Homo sapiens: one gene and its partner. The protein of the gene in region 2 interacts with the protein of the main gene of each other region in a biochemical or structural test. Each region holds a gene or a part of one and is shown on either strand. Other genes may lie near its edges.

Evidence for each region.
Region 1: the proteins of SEC16A (region 2) and MIA3 form a complex in vitro, tested with the Homo sapiens proteins (one study listed by BioGRID).

What each region holds. Positions count from the first base shown.
Region 1 is NC_000001.11:222,627,533-222,635,644, reverse strand, and holds part of MIA3 (transport and Golgi organization protein 1 homolog isoform 1 precursor), read right to left. Parts: intron 8,071-8,112; coding exon 5,256-8,070; intron 3,481-5,255; coding exon 3,319-3,480; intron 2,542-3,318; coding exon 2,396-2,541; intron 1-2,395.
Region 2 is NC_000009.12:136,472,775-136,480,886, reverse strand, and holds part of SEC16A (protein transport protein Sec16A), read left to right. Parts: intron 1-2,056; 5' UTR 2,057-2,178; intron 2,179-3,202; 5' UTR 3,203-3,271; coding exon 3,272-6,838; intron 6,839-8,112. UniProt on the Homo sapiens protein: Acts as a molecular scaffold that plays a key role in the organization of the endoplasmic reticulum exit sites (ERES), also known as transitional endoplasmic reticulum (tER).

The DNA of each region.
Region 1 (8,112 bases), on a different chromosome or scaffold from region 2:
TCTATATGAACTACTTGATACTTTGCATAAACTATTTCCTATATTCTCCACTTTCTCCAATTTTCACATGTATTTGGTAAACTTTTTTTGAAGACTTTCAAAAGTCAGAATTACACTTTATACCTCTTGGAATCTTGTATTCCTAGCACAATTTCTGGTACATATTTAGCCATCAAAATGCTCTTTTGACAATCCCTCTCAAGTCGGCATCTTATAACACTGCGCCCTTATATCTTGCCATTCATGTCTGTCATTCCCTGTTATCCCCTGATCACAGATCGTATCCTACACCACTCCTATATGCCCCAACCCAGGCCTAGAAGAGGGCTCTGTGCGTATCTAGAAATACAATGAATAAAGAATTCCTTCTACAACTGGGGCTGTTAAATTTTTCAAGTGATAATTTCACTCTGAAAACCAAATTCTGAATTCTGAGACTGTCTTAATCCCTGAAAACTTCATTATTCCAACTGCAAAGATAATACACACCTTCACCCAGGTGGCTATCACCAGAACAAACATGAATAATACTGAAAAATGGTTTGGTTTTCCTACTTGTTTTCCATCCTGGTGGTCTTTCTCCTGAAACCCTCAGGTATTCAATGTCTTTATATGCCCTCTGACCATCCAAATGAGAATTAGGTGAGGGATGAGATCTTACAAAATGCCAGTTGCTACACCAGACATTTTACATTATCATGTCATTTAATTCTTACCAACAATTGGAGTATGTATTATCTAAATTTTTCAGATGAGAAAGTTGAGGTTCAAAGTTTAGTAATTTGCCCTAAACTTCTAATCGATAGCTTTGGGATTTGAAATAAAATCATCTTGGCTTGAAACCCATGGATTTTAACAGAAAAACAACAAGAACGCTCTTTCCTATTCGAGTCTTGAAATAACAGAACCTAAAGGAAATGGCTTTGGTGAGAAGCATACTTTCTCTGTAGCCCTAAGGGCAACCTGGCCTCCAACTTCAAGAGCTTGCTTAGTCCTCTAATTTACCAAGAAAAAAAGTCCAATTCCACCGAGTACCACAAGGGGGAGCTAAGTCCTAAAAAGCCTAGATAAGCTTCTAGACATTAAATGTCTCATTTGGAGCATGGCTCCCTTTAGAAAGATCTGAATAAATATTCTGCCATAAGTGACTCTTTCTAAGAAACAGACCTGACAATCCCTTTCCTGCTTAAAATCTTCCAAGGATCTCTGCCAACAATGGTCTGACCACTCACTATGGTGTACAATTTCCTTTCTGACTTTCCCTGAGTCCCTCCAACAGACCTTCTCCCTCCTAACTCCATACTTTTTTATTTTTATTTTTTCTGAGGCAGGGTCTTGCTCTGTCGCTCAGGCTGGAATGCAGTGGCACGATCTCAGCTAATTGCAACCTCTGCCTCCCGGGCTCAAGCTATTCTCCTGCCTCAGCCTCCCAAGTAGATGGGATTACAGGTGTGCACCACCCTGCCCAGCTAATTTTAACTCCACACTTTAACAACACCAACTGGCCGGGAATGGTGGCTCACGCCTGTAATCCCAGCACTTTGGGAGGCCAAGGTGGGCAGCTCCCATGGGCTCAGGAGTTCGAGACCAACCTGGGCAACATCACAAAACCCCACCTCTACAAAAAATAGCCAGGCATGGTGGTGCACACTTGTGATCCCAGCTACTCAGGAGACTGAAGCAGGAGGATCGCCTGAGCCCAGGAGGCAGAGGTTGCAGTGAGCTGAGATCACGCCAATGCACTCCTGCCTGGGCAACAGAGCAAGACCCTGTCTCAATTTAAAAAAAAAAGAAAAAGAAAAAACACCAACTACCCACGCTTCCCTGGCTTCCCCAAATAACCTTTTCTTCATGCCTCCATTTCTCTGAATGTGTTATTTCTTCTGCCTGACTGCATGCTGCCCGCCCCCCTGCCCACATCCTTCCCCTAGCCCTTCTATTTGACAACTCCAAGTCAAGCTCCCATCTCTTTCGAATCTGCTTAAAGCATATCTCAGCGAATTTCTGGCCTTTCCTATCACTCTCCCTCCACGATGAACCAATTTATGCCACAGATTGTTCTACCATCAGGTAAATACTTCTCTTCCTGCCCATTATCATGTTACATTTCAAGTGACTGTCTTTCTCTCCTGGCTAAACTGAAAGGTCCCTGAAAGGAAGAACCACGTTTGACAGGTGTGCTTGTGCCCAGCTCCAGCATGCAGCAAAGCCTCCTCATGTGCTGAACTAAGAGCCCATTAAAGCCACACACCTGTGGCTCATTTCAGGGTCTCTCTTCAAAGGATCAGGAGTCAGGTTCATAAAGACATTTTAAGTTCTTCACCTCATGCTCAAAATCAACTTAAAAACTGTAATAATCAACATTTTAGTTAAAAAAAAACTATGTTAAACTTACCGACTTAGTTAAATAAAACATGAATGAATATATTAGAAGGATTGCGTTTTCCAAAGGTGTGACACTTGCCGGCTCTTCGGCGGCTGTCTCTGGTTGCTTGTTTGCATCAATAGCATCCATAGGAGTGTCTTCTGTTGTAACTGGCCCTGGAATTGGGAGGAAAGATAGACATTTTGTGCTTTAGAATAAGAATTCTCTTTAAAAAATACTTATTGAGTATCCACTAAATATTAGGCACTGTGCCTGGAAAGTAAACGTTCTCATCTCTCACTGGATGTTTACTGTGCACTGTGGTGAAATACTCTTTGTGTCGGTCTATCCTGGACTATTACACACTACAGTGTTCTGTACTGTCTCCTATGAGCTTATGCTATAAACATACTTGGACCCCTTCACTGTATTTTAAGAAGTTTTACTTACCATGTCCAGATAGCAAATCAAAAAAAAGAACTGCATTGCATTGTATTTTATTTGGAAAGAGAGGGGTAAAGTAGAGGAAAAACAGAATTTGTGAGTTTTAGAGCAGTGGTTCTCCAACTGTAATTTGCATCAGGTCAGTCTTTCCTGGAGGGCTTGTTAAACACAGATTGCCGGTTCCACCCCCAGAGTTTCTGATGCTGCTGGGCTGGTTGAAAACTACTGTTTTAGAGCATAAGGCCTTTTAAGAATAATATTTTAGATTGAAATAATTTACACAAGATAGTGACAGCCAAACATTGGTTTGTAGGTTAGTTATAGTCTCTGGTGTCTTTCCTATTTTTGATCTCCATCTGTCTTGACGCCTGCTTTTCTCTCAATTAGCTCTGGGATCCTTTTTTCCTTTGAATTTAACAAGTCTCTAGCTCCTGCCTTTGACAATGAATCTCCTAGAAGGCCTTCTTTATGATTTCTCCACTTTGTAGAAAAAAATTAGCAGGCTTTACCTGGGTCCAGGTCTTTCTCAGTATTTGGCTTCTGTGACACTTCTGAGGCATGAGTGTCCCCAATCACACGTTGGTCCAAGTGGGTGGGTTCTTCAGGAACCTGCACATTAAGTTCTGCTGTCTTCTCTCGTGAGAAATTATCTTCATGCAGTGGTTGCATCTCTAGGGTGAGAAGAATACACTGGGCTAGCACAGCTTGATGACACTACCTGTTAGGCTAATCCCACTGACCACACCAGGGCACCTCAACATTGACCTCCATGCATGGGCATCCCATGGAGCACAACTGGGCAGGGAAATAAGAGTTTCAGTTTCTTTTATTCCATTTAAAGGATGACTAATCTACATAATAAAATCTACAGAGGAGTATTTCATAAATAAATACATTTATGGTAGGGACTTCAGTAACATCTTTCCTTGGCAAATCAGCCTACACCCACACAAATAAATGTGCAAATGAGAATTCCACTCAAGAGCAGAAATGTGAAACATCTATTCTGCAGAGAAGTAACATGAACTCTTGCATACCCTAGCATGCCTTTCTCACAGAACTAGTACAGACAGGGACATTCCACGCCAAGGCAGCTTGCTGAGATGTCTTTCGAATACTTTCAAAGTACCTCTAAGAGTCAAACAAAGTGAAGCCATCTCCTCTCCTAAGAGGCTTAGGGGACAGTCCAATGTGATCCACAGCAAAGGTGAATTTCCTTGTAGCCTCATATTTTACCCTGAAAATTCATCTGAATATTGCCTTCTTATCCAAAATATATGTTTTAATTAAATGCAAAAAAGTTCTCCTCCCCCATTTCTTAGGAAAAATTAGCACTCTGGAGTAATACGTTTTCCTGTGGCTTCCTGTCCCCTTGGTACTCTCAATTCAGATACATCTGTCTGAAAAGCCTGGATATACCAGGTGCGGTAGCTCACACCTGTAATCCCAGTACTTTGGGAGGCCAAAGTAGGAGGGTCACTTGAGGCCAAGAGTTCAAGATCAACCTGGGCAACATACCAAGACCCTGTCTCTACAATAAATAAAAATTATTTGGGCACAGTGATGCATGCCTGTAGTCCTAGCCACTTAGGAGGCTGAGATGGGAGGTTCGCTTGGGCCTAGGAGTTGGAGGCTGCAATGAGTTATGATCATGCCACTGTACTCCAGCCTGGGTGACAGGGTGAGAGCCTGTCTTAAGAAAAAAAAAAAGAAAAGAAAAAAAGAAAGAGGAAGGAAGGAAGGAAGGGCAGGTGGGCAAAGGGAAAGAAAAGAAAAGAAAAGAAAGAGAAAAGCCTGGATGCAGAGAATAGAACAAGGAACTAGGAATCAGAATGCTTATGTCAGGATATTGGCTCGGGGTTAATTCAACTGAATGGCTTCCACGCATCAAGCACTGCATTCGAAGGCATCCCTGTCCCAATCTTGATTAATCTGCATGCAAGAACCTTACGGCCCAGGAGGGTTTAACTGGAGTAAGTGCTCCCAAGAAACAGGAAGAACAAGCCATCCACAAAAGATAAAATTGGGGAGAACGTAGGAATTTAGCCAAGGCATTGATCTAAAAGTTATACCAGTCAATCCATGGTTACAGAGCAGTTATCTGACGACTGAAAAATTGTGTTCAATAAAACCCTTTCATAATTTTACATGACATTTGTATTTTGTATATTACTTTCTGGTTTATATCTTTCTCTTTAGCTTTTTACAAAGTTTCCTTTTGAAAATGCTAACCAGTCTCAACTATTCTAAGGGAAACGGCAAGAAATTCTTCTCCATGCTCCAGCCTAAAAGAAAGATGGCAGGAAGGAACATGTGGACCTCCCTGTGTTGTCCCTCTCCTTTAGGCACATTGGAAACTGAACAGAGCTTCACAAGATAGGAGGCACCTCAGCGACCCACCCACCTGCTTCTCCAGCCCTGTTCTACAAGGCCATAGGCATCTCACCTTCCATTGCTCCACCCAAGCCTTCCTCTAGAGGTGGTGCCATCACCAGTGTGGCTGTCTCCTCTGCTGTGGAGTGCTTGTACCTGACAAAATAGATGAGGTCTTGAATGTCATCAAGCACTGCAGCCTCTTCAAATATGTTATTTTCGTTCATTCCCAGATCTCTATTTTCAGCCACACGAGTATCAAGCATTTTTTCTGCTATGCTCAGAATTTGTGACTCAGAAGCACGGAAGACCTTATCTAGGACTTTTTCCATATTATAGGGCAGGCTCTCCTGCTGCGCTGACTTCAGTTTTGATGACATTTCTTGTAGCAAGGCTTCCAGCTCATGGACATTAAAGTACTTCTGGAACCGCTGCAAAGACTGTTGTTCTTTAAAGAAGCTGCTTATGATAAGTAAGTCCTCCCTCTTGTCACTATGCCCTGGCTCTACACTTGTATGTGGAGTCCAGTGGAACGAGTCATCTTCAGGTTCTGCAGCAGCAGACCCCTGGCTTTCTGTGCCCATGTACTTCTCTGTGTTCTCATGGTCCTCTTTTGAGAGTTCTCCCTCAGGCTCCCCTGCAAGCCCTGAGGTCTTCAGATGTTCCTCAGGGTTGTCGTTCTTCAGATAATCAGAATCTTTATTCTGAAACACTTCACCTAATTCTGGAGTCTGAATTTTTATGCTGTCAGAAAAGTCACTTCGTTCAAATGGTCTCTGTGCTTTCTTATCTGCCAGAGGGCGTTCTTTTTCCACCATTGTATTTGGTTCCCTGCCTCCTGTGTTGACCCCTTTGGCAGCAGTCTCACTTGTTTTTTCGCTATCCAAAATCATACTAGTTTCTTGCTTGCTTTCTTCAATTTCTGGATCTGGATGAATGGTCCCTAAAACTGCTCTGTCAGGGACTTGCAGATTAACATCAAACTGCCTGCCCTGATTCCCAGGGTTTTTTTCTTTAGACCGTTTTGCATTTATAGCGTTTTCATCCTCTAGTAGTTCTTCAGAGGGATAATCATCCTCTTCTACTTTAGAAAGGAAAGCTGGTCCTCCTGTGCTGTCAGTTTGGTCTGTCTGTCCTACCTCTGTGCCCTGCATTGCCTTGTGATGAAAAAACTCTTCATCCAAGGAGTCCTCTTTGGCTTCTCCCTCAGAGAGCCTTATCTTCTCACTCATTTGCTTACTGGCTGTGGCAGCCACATCTCTTTCTTGTTGCCAGGGAAGATTTCTTCCCAGAATGGGAACCTCGTCTTCCAGTTCTCTGGGCAAATCAATCTCATCTGGAGAGGAGAATCTAGGTTGGTTTTGAGTTTTAAGAACTAATTCCTCTTTCAATTCCTCACGTTGATGCTCCACTGAAAGCGTGTGCAGTTTGGCCCCATTTACCAAAGCGTCTCCCTCCACACTGTCTCTGGATGCGTTAGGGTGGTCATCTCCCATGAGTGGTGCACTACCCAGGGATTCCTGTTGAATCTTTCTGTCATTCATTTGATTCCCTGCAGCTTTCTGTGCAGATTCACTCTCTGAGCCACCTTCCAAAATCTGCTCTCCAGGCTTTTCTTCGTGGAGCATTCCTTTTGAGATATGAATAGCTGCTCCTTTTAGGTCATTTTCTGTATCATCATAAGCTGATTTTAATGTGTCTTTACCCTTTTCAGCAGCTGGCATAGAGTTGAGGTTATTGCTGTGAACAGAACTGTGCACAGTCATGCCTTCTTGATTTTCATCCTCTAATTCTGTCTTATCTTGTACCAGGCCCCTCTTGGATTCCTGAACTCCCCTCCCTTTTCCTTTAATGTGATGTTCTGCGTTTACTTCTTTGTCATTATTTGTTTTAGGAATGTCTACAATAAAAAGACCATCATCTACATTGTCAGGGTCACTATAATCTGTTGCTGACTGTGGTTTCCCCTGTTTGCTATCTGGGACTAATGCATCATCATCATCTTCTTTTTCTTCCTCTGAACTAGAGCTCTCTAAATCCATCGTATCTCTTGTTTCTTCACCTCCTGTGACAATAGAGAAGATAGTGTCCCCCCAGGTTGTTAGTATATTTTTATCATCATTTTTGATGCCAGGGGGCACAGTTAGCTGAACCTTGTCCTCTTCATTTGAATTCTGCTCTTTATCTGTTGGATATTTCTCAACGCCAGACTTTGCTGGAGTTTTCATATCTTCCCCATCTGTAAAGGTAAGTAATGGCAACTCATCAAAGTCTTCTTGGTTCTCCTCATCTTCCTTTCCAACTGCATAATACTCAGTATCCAATTCCTCATCAAAATCATCTTCTAATGAAGTAACGAGTCTGGTTGTCTCATCATCAGATACAAGTGCATCAGCTGTTGAGCCAAATTTGGTTTTCAAGTCTAGAGTCATTTCTTTTTTCAAAAGTTTATAGGCATCAATCTTATCCTGTTCATTTGAGACCTGAGAACTATTGCTGGTTTTGTTGTTTTCACTTTCTGGCACTTTTAGTTTATCTTGCAGCATTTCTTCAAAAGATTCAAATGAAGCCTGCTCTCCCTGAGCATGATTTGCTTGGCTGTTTGCATGGGAGTGGTGCTTCTGAGTTGTAAACTGTTCCTGAAGATCCTCAGTGTTTTCTGAGAATACACTATCACTTTCCTCTGAGTTGGCTTCTACTGGTTCAGGTTCAGGTTCCCTTTCCTTAGATAATTCAGGGTTTTTTTCCATATCCTGTAAAGTTTTTTCTACAGCTTTCTCAGAATCTGTAGCTGCAGAATTGTACAGTTCCAAAAACCCTAAAAGTTCTTCTACATTATAATTATGAAAATCATCTCTTCCTCCATCAAAACAAACAAAATCCGTCTCCTGTAAGAAAAAGAAAAACATTAGTCTGTCAATAGCCAAGTG
Region 2 (8,112 bases):
GAGACGGAGTCTCGCTCTGCCCAGGCGGGAGTGCAGTGGCGCGATCTCAGCTCACTGCAAGCTCCGCCTCCCAGGTTTACGCCATTCTCCTGCCTCAGCCTCCCGAGTAGCTGGGATTACAGGCGCCCGCCACCACGCCCGGCTAATTTTTTGTATTTTAGTAGAGACGGGGTTTCACCGTGTTAGCCAGGATGGTCTCGATCTTCTGACCTCTTGATCTGCCCGCCTCGGCCTCCCAAAGTGCTGGGATTACAGGTGTGAGCCACCGTGCCCGGCCACCCCTGTTAAACAGCAGGTGGGATTAGGACATCCCAGAATCCACTGTGAGTAGAATCTCATAAGATTAAACCCGGGTTTTTTAGGAAAAAATAATCACATCGATTCTCGCATTTTATAGACAAAAATACATTGCAGAAAGAGGAGTGGCTGCCTCGAGCCACTCACCTGGACACTCAGTTTTGCTCTCACAGCAGCAGCCAAGGAATAAACCTCTAGGCCCGTGCTCTGTGTTTAAAGCAAACAAAAGCTTTTGAGGATGATAAGGATCTTCCCGGGGAAGGCCATGTCTTGAGAGATGAGGTAGGACCCCAGTTCTGGCAGCAGAGTTTCAGGAGGTGCTTGGAAGTTTGCGTGTTCTGGCCGTGGTTGCAGGTGTCGCTGTGTCTGCTGTGGCTGTGCAGCTGGTAGGACCCAGTGGAAGATAATGCCAGTGCACAGATCAGAGGAAGATGCTCTGCCTGTTCTCCTTTCAGTCCATATAAAATAGAGCTGTGAACATTCTTTGTTTTCAGATGAGAGCCTAAAACCTCCATGAAGCCTTTGCTGCTGTTCCTAGTAAATAGCTTGACTTAAAATACATTGATCAGTGTTTTCTTCTTTTTTTTTTTGAGACAGTTTCACTCTGTCGCCCAGGCTGGAGTGTTGTGGCTTGAACAAGGCTCACTGCAGCCTCAACCTCCCTGGCTCAAGCGATCTTCCCACCTCAGCCTCCCGAGTAGTTGGGACTACAGGCACGCACCACCACGACCGGCATTTTTTTTTTGGTGATGGGGTATCGCTGTGTGTTGCCCAGGCTGGTCTCAAACTGCTGAACTCGAGTGGTCCTCCTACCTCCCAAAGTGCTCGGCTTACAGGTGTGAGCCACTGCACCTGGCCAGTGTTTTCTTCTTTTATCTGAATATCAGAAAGATTTCCAAGAGACCAAAATAATATACATCTGCAAAGATGTGTGGATTGGCCAGGCACGGTGGCTCACGCCTGTAATCCCAGCACTTTGGGAGGCCGAGGCGGGTGGATTATGAGGTCAGGAGATCAAGACCATCCTGGCTAACATGGTGAAACCCCATCTCTACTGAAAAGACAAAAAATTAGCCTGGCATGGTGGCAGGTGCCTGTAGTCCCAGCTGCTCAGGAGGCTGAGGCAGGAGAATGGCATGAACCTGGGAGGCGGAGCTTGCAGTGAGCCGAGATCGCACCACTGCACCCCAGTCTGGGCGACAGAGCAAGACTCCGTCTCAAAAAAAAAAATGTGTGGATTAAACTACAGAGTCCTCCCCTTTGGTTTAATTTTTCCTTTGATTGGCTAAACTTATCTGTTTGTTCATGAGGGTGGTGCTGACAAGAAGAAAGACTGATAGAAAGAAAAGAACTTTCCTAAAGATATAGTCCTTGAATTTTTGCCTTAAGAGGCCAGGTTAACTATTCAAGTTTGTATCTACTATGTTTTATTTAAAAACTGATGGAGGTTTTTGCCCCTTTCTTTTCTGTAAGAGGTTTCTTGGCAATTCTGCCTGTTGTTGAAAGTGTTGGAATCCAGTCTGTGCCTTGTAAAGCTGCTTTAAGTTTCCTGGGAGTTTCCATTCCAGGCACAGTTACGGCTCCAGTTCAAAGGTAACATCTTGCTGGTGGTCCTTTCAGACCTTAAGCCAGTCACAGTACAAAAACGGAGACCTATGAAGAGGTGTGATAAAAGGCATTTAGATGAATATATTTATTTTGCAGTGCTTTTTAAAAAAATGATTGTGTCACTTTTTATTTATTTATTTTTTTAAAATAGAGACCGTCTTGCTCTGTTGCCCAGGCTGGACCGCGGTGGTATAATCATAGCTCACTGCAGCCTCGAACTCATGGACACAAGTGATCTTCCTTCCTTAACCCCCTGAGTCCCTGGGACTACAGGTGTGTGCCACCATGTCTGGCTAACTTTCTTCTTTTGTAGAGACAAGGTCTTGCTATGTTGCCCAGGCTGGTCTCGACCTCCTGGGCTCTGGCAGTCCTTCCACCTTGACCTCCCAAAGTGCTGGGATTACAGGCATGAGCCACTGCACCCAGCCTATTTTGCAGCTTTTATAACTATACTTCATAATGCTCTTTCATCAAAGAAAATGGAAGAATGAATTTTAAACTTTTGTATCCCTTTTGAAATTTAAAATTAACATGTATGGAAAGTATGATATAAAGTTTTCCTTTTTTTTTTTTTTTTTTGAGCTAGGGACTCACTGTGTCACCCAGGCTGAAGGGTAGTGGTGCTGTCATAGCTCACGACAGCCTCAACCTCCCAGGCTGACGCAATCCTCCTGCCTCAGCCTCCTGAGTAGTTGGGACTACAGGTGTGCACCACCATGCCTGGCTGATTTTTGTATTTTTTGTAGAAACGAGATCCCCCTGTTGCTCAGGCTGGCCTCGAATTCCTGGGCTCAAGTGGTCCTCCCGCCTTGGCCTCTTAAAGTGTTGGGAGTACAGGCGTAAGCCACCATATCTGGCCAGTTTTTCTTTCTTAATAGAAGAGTTGGCTCTTCCTGGATCTAGGGATGGTTTACAGGAAAACATTGAGTATCTGTGGGTCTGGTAGCATATCACAGCAGTGGTCAGGTTCCGCACTGTCCCTGTTGTTGTGGCGCGGGTCTGCGGCAGCAATGGGCCCTGTGAGTAGAGGATCCCAGGGGAGGGAGTGGCCATCTAGACATACTCCATCAGCTCGCAGCCAGGCCATCCAGGGTTCTCACTCTGTCCCCTGCCCCCCAGAACAGTTCCTCAGGGACAGGTGTTCTCTGCTGGGGTGGGGTGTAGGGGAGAGAGAGTCCTTGGGATTTAAGTGACATAAAATCATGTTCAATGTTTCTCTTTTTCCTTAGTTTTCCTGATTGCAGCTAGGACTTTGAATATATGGATTTTATGCTGATTTTCTCTTTTTCTTTTCCAGCTCCAATTAAGGAACAGCTATATCCTGCTTCCTTCTGTAAGCAGCATCGACTTGTGCAAGGGTTCAGTCATGCAGCCACCGCCCCAGACGGTCCCGTCTGGCATGGCTGGGCCACCTCCAGCCGGGAATCCTCGGAGCGTGTTCTGGGCTAGCAGCCCTTACAGGAGACGGGCTAATAATAATGCAGCAGTGGCTCCGACAACTTGCCCGTTGCAGCCGGTCACGGATCCATTTGCTTTTAGTAGACAGGCGCTCCAAAGTACACCACTGGGCAGTTCGTCCAAAAGCAGTCCACCTGTCTTGCAAGGCCCAGCCCCCGCAGGGTTTTCTCAGCACCCCGGTTTGCTTGTTCCTCACACACATGCCAGAGATAGCTCTCAGGGACCCTGTGAGCCCCTGCCTGGACCTCTGACACAGCCCAGAGCACATGCCAGTCCGTTTTCTGGTGCATTGACACCTTCAGCACCTCCTGGGCCTGAGATGAACAGGAGTGCAGAGGTCGGTCCCAGTTCAGAGCCTGAAGTTCAGACTCTGCCATATCTTCCTCACTACATTCCAGGAGTGGATCCTGAAACGTCTCATGGGGGCCACCCTCATGGGAACATGCCTGGGCTCGACCGACCCCTGAGCAGGCAAAACCCACATGACGGTGTGGTCACCCCAGCAGCATCCCCTTCCCTCCCTCAGCCTGGTCTGCAGATGCCAGGACAGTGGGGGCCAGTGCAGGGAGGCCCACAGCCCTCGGGGCAACATCGTTCACCCTGCCCTGAAGGACCTGTTCCCAGCGGGGTGCCCTGTGCCACCAGCGTTCCTCATTTCCCCACCCCGTCCATCCTACATCAGGGCCCTGGTCATGAGCAACACAGCCCTCTGGTGGCTCCCCCAGCAGCCTTGCCCAGTGACGGAAGAGACGAGGTGAGCCACTTGCAAAGTGGAAGCCACCTGGCCAATAACTCTGATCCTGAAAGTACATTCAGGCAAAATCCCAGAATTGTGAATCACTGGGCAAGCCCAGAGCTCAGGCAGAATCCAGGAGTGAAGAATGAGCACCGGCCCGCCTCTGCTCTTGTGAACCCCCTCGCCCGGGGAGATAGCCCAGAAAACCGTACGCACCACCCACTGGGGGCTGGGGCCGGGTCTGGCTGTGCCCCGCTAGAAGCAGACTCAGGAGCTTCAGGAGCTCTGGCGATGTTTTTCCAAGGGGGAGAGACAGAAAATGAGGAGAATCTCTCATCTGAAAAAGCAGGCTTATCTGGTCAAGCGGACTTTGACGATTTCTGCTCCAGCCCTGGGCTAGGCCGTCCGCCCGCACCTACACACGTGGGGGCAGGCAGCCTCTGCCAGGCCCTTCTCCCAGGCCCCAGCAATGAGGCTGCTGGTGATGTGTGGGGTGACACAGCGAGCACAGGGGTGCCGGATGCCAGCGGCTCGCAGTATGAGAATGTTGAGAACTTAGAATTTGTTCAGAATCAAGAAGTTCTGCCAAGTGAGCCCCTCAATTTGGACCCTTCCTCCCCGAGTGACCAGTTCAGATATGGGCCCCTTCCTGGGCCAGCTGTGCCCAGGCATGGTGCTGTGTGCCACACCGGAGCCCCTGATGCCACACTGCATACAGTGCACCCTGACAGCGTGTCATCCAGCTATAGCAGCAGAAGCCACGGAAGGCTCTCAGGCTCAGCCAGGCCCCAGGAGCTGGTTGGCACATTCATTCAGCAAGAAGTTGGAAAACCCGAGGATGAAGCTTCAGGTAGTTTTTTTAAGCAAATCGATTCTTCTCCCGTAGGAGGTGAAACAGACGAGACCACTGTGAGCCAGAATTACCGTGGCAGCGTGTCCCAGCCCTCAACCCCGAGCCCCCCGAAACCTACAGGAATATTTCAGACAAGTGCAAATAGTTCTTTCGAACCGGTAAAATCTCACTTAGTTGGGGTAAAACCATTTGAGGCAGATCGCGCCAACGTGGTTGGTGAAGTAAGGGAGACCTGTGTCCGCCAGAAGCAGTGCAGACCAGCTGCCGCCCTGCCCGATGCTTCCCCTGGCAACCTGGAGCAGCCACCAGACAACATGGAGACCCTCTGTGCACCCCAGGTCTGTCCCCTGCCTCTTAACTCCACCACGGAAGCTGTGCACATGCTTCCGCACGCAGGGGCACCGCCCTTGGATACTGTGTATCCAGCACCCGAGAAGAGGCCTTCAGCCAGGACCCAGGGGCCCGTGAAGTGTGAGAGCCCAGCAACGACTCTGTGGGCGCAAAGTGAGCTGCCAGATTTTGGAGGCAACGTCCTTCTGGCCCCTGCAGCCCCGGCGCTTTATGTGTGTGCAAAACCTCAGCCACCTGTTGTTCAGCCTCCAGAAGAGGCGATGTCCGGGCAGCAGTCACGGAACCCAAGCTCGGCGGCCCCGGTGCAGAGCCGAGGTGGCATTGGTGCTTCTGAGAACCTTGAGAATCCTCCCAAAATGGGAGAGGAGGAGGCCCTTCAGTCCCAGGCGAGTTCTGGTTATGCAAGTTTATTATCCTCACCGCCCACTGAGTCTCTGCAGAATCCTCCAGTCTTGATTGCTCAGCCTGATCACAGCTATAATCTGGCTCAGCCCATTAACTTTTCTGTGTCCTTATCGAACTCTCATGAGAAGAATCAGTCCTGGAGAGAGGCTTTGGTGGGGGATAGACCTGCAGTCAGCAGTTGGGCTCTCGGTGGTGATTCTGGGGAGAACACTTCTTTGTCTGGGATTCCAACCAGCTCTGTCCTTAGCTTGTCTCTGCCTAGCAGTGTTGCCCAAAGTAATTTTCCACAAGGTTCTGGTGCTTCCGAAATGGTTTCTAATCAGCCTGCTAATTTGCTGGTTCAACCACCATCCCAGCCAGTTCCAGAGAACTTGGTTCCAGAAAGTCAAAAGGATCGTAAGGCAGGAAGTGCTCTTCCCGGATTTGCTAATAGCCCTGCTGGAAGCACAAGTGTGGTGTTAGTTCCACCTGCACACGGCACCCTGGTGCCTGATGGTAATAAGGCAAACCATTCCAGTCATCAGGAAGACACTTACGGAGCCCTAGACTTTACCTTAAGCAGGACTTTGGAAAATCCTGTAAACGTGTACAACCCGTCCCATTCTGACAGCCTCGCTTCTCAGCAAAGTGTTGCCAGTCATCCCAGACAATCTGGGCCTGGGGCGCCTAACCTTGACCGTTTTTATCAGCAGGTCACGAAAGATGCCCAGGGCCAGCCTGGCCTCGAAAGAGCCCAGCAGGAGCTGGTGCCACCCCAGCAACAGGCTTCTCCCCCACAACTACCCAAAGCCATGTTTTCGGAGCTGTCAAATCCAGAAAGTCTGCCCGCACAGGGACAGGCCCAGAACTCAGCACAGTCACCAGCAAGTCTGGTTCTGGTCGACGCGGGTCAGCAGCTGCCCCCTCGGCCTCCTCAGTCCTCTAGCGTGTCTCTGGTGTCCAGTGGCTCCGGCCAGGCAGCTGTGCCGTCAGAGCAGCCGTGGCCACAGCCAGTGCCTGCACTTGCCCCCGGCCCACCGCCTCAGGACCTGGCCGCCTACTACTACTACCGGCCTTTGTACGATGCCTACCAGCCTCAGTACTCTTTGCCGTACCCACCGGAGCCTGGCGCAGCCTCCCTCTATTACCAGGTAAGAGTCGAGTCGTATGTGTAACCCACTTTTCTGTCTGTGCTTTGACCAGTTGAGTCTCACTCACAGTGTATTCCTTAGTAGTGTTTGTTCGCTTGGTTCCGGGGTCACCCACAGTCCCGCAGGCGTGAGAACAGTATTCCAGTAACGCTTCCTGAGGACAGGGCTCCCGGCTCCAGAACCTACTCTCCCAAGCACAGGCCACCCTTAGTTCACACCACGCGTTAGCATCTTGAATTGCTTATAATACTTGCTTAGGATTTGAACCAGCCTCCCCAGCTTATGTGACAAAAAGAGCCCTCCATTTGCTGTCACCCCTGCTCCTGCTGGCTGTCTGCAGAAAAGTTCTGTCTTGCATGCCTTGGGAAGCTGGGCTAGCCTCTGGAAGCTTACGTCAGAAGCATTGGGTATAACCATAGTCCTTTAAATGCCCCTGGAGAATAAAAACATGGAGAGAAAATAGTTTTGGAGCATGAGCCACACGCATCAGCTAAGCGAGGCGGAGTCCCGCAAGCTGCTGTCAGCACGTGGTGGTGCGGGCAGCGGCTCGGGGACCGGCTGTGCTCGTGCAGAAGATTCTTCTGTGCCTCTTTTTCACAGGGACACCAGCTCATGAGTGACATTTGAGTTAGGTTCCGCATAATCCTGCAGTCGTTCGAAAAGTGTCTGTGTACACATTTGATCATTATCTGCTTTTCCTACCCTCTAACCCAGTTCAACATACACCGATTGGGTTCACCGATTCAGTGTCACCCCAGGTAGAAGGATTGTGTGATAGGGAATTGGAAAACCATGGTCTTGCGGTATGTAAGGCCAGTTGGAACCAGACTTGGGGCCACACAGGAAGGCCTTGCAGTCAGAAGGGGGCCCGCCCCGAGGAGCAAGGCTGCCGTGGCTTGCTGGGTACTGCCCCGGGGAATGGGGCTGGGCCTCCCCCATGGGCCTCGAGCATCATGGTTTGTGTGCGTGTGACCAGGTGCACACCTGACCCCTCAGACCTGTGTAGGTTCCAGAAGGAGCCCAGGCACTTTTTATTTCCATACAAGGACATTCAGCTCTGCTGGGAGCCCTGGGGTGGGGCTGGTGCAGAGCGACGGGAAGCCGTGGCCTCACTTCGGGTCCTTTGTCCGGTCCTCCTGCTGCGAGCCACCTCCCTCCGCAGGAGTGCACTCCTCCCGCCGTGCCTCTTGCTGTGGTGTCCGGGTGGCCAAGGATGAGTCTGTTTTGCTGTGATTTCACATTTCCTGCCAGGCAGCGGCAGCGTCGAGGCCTTG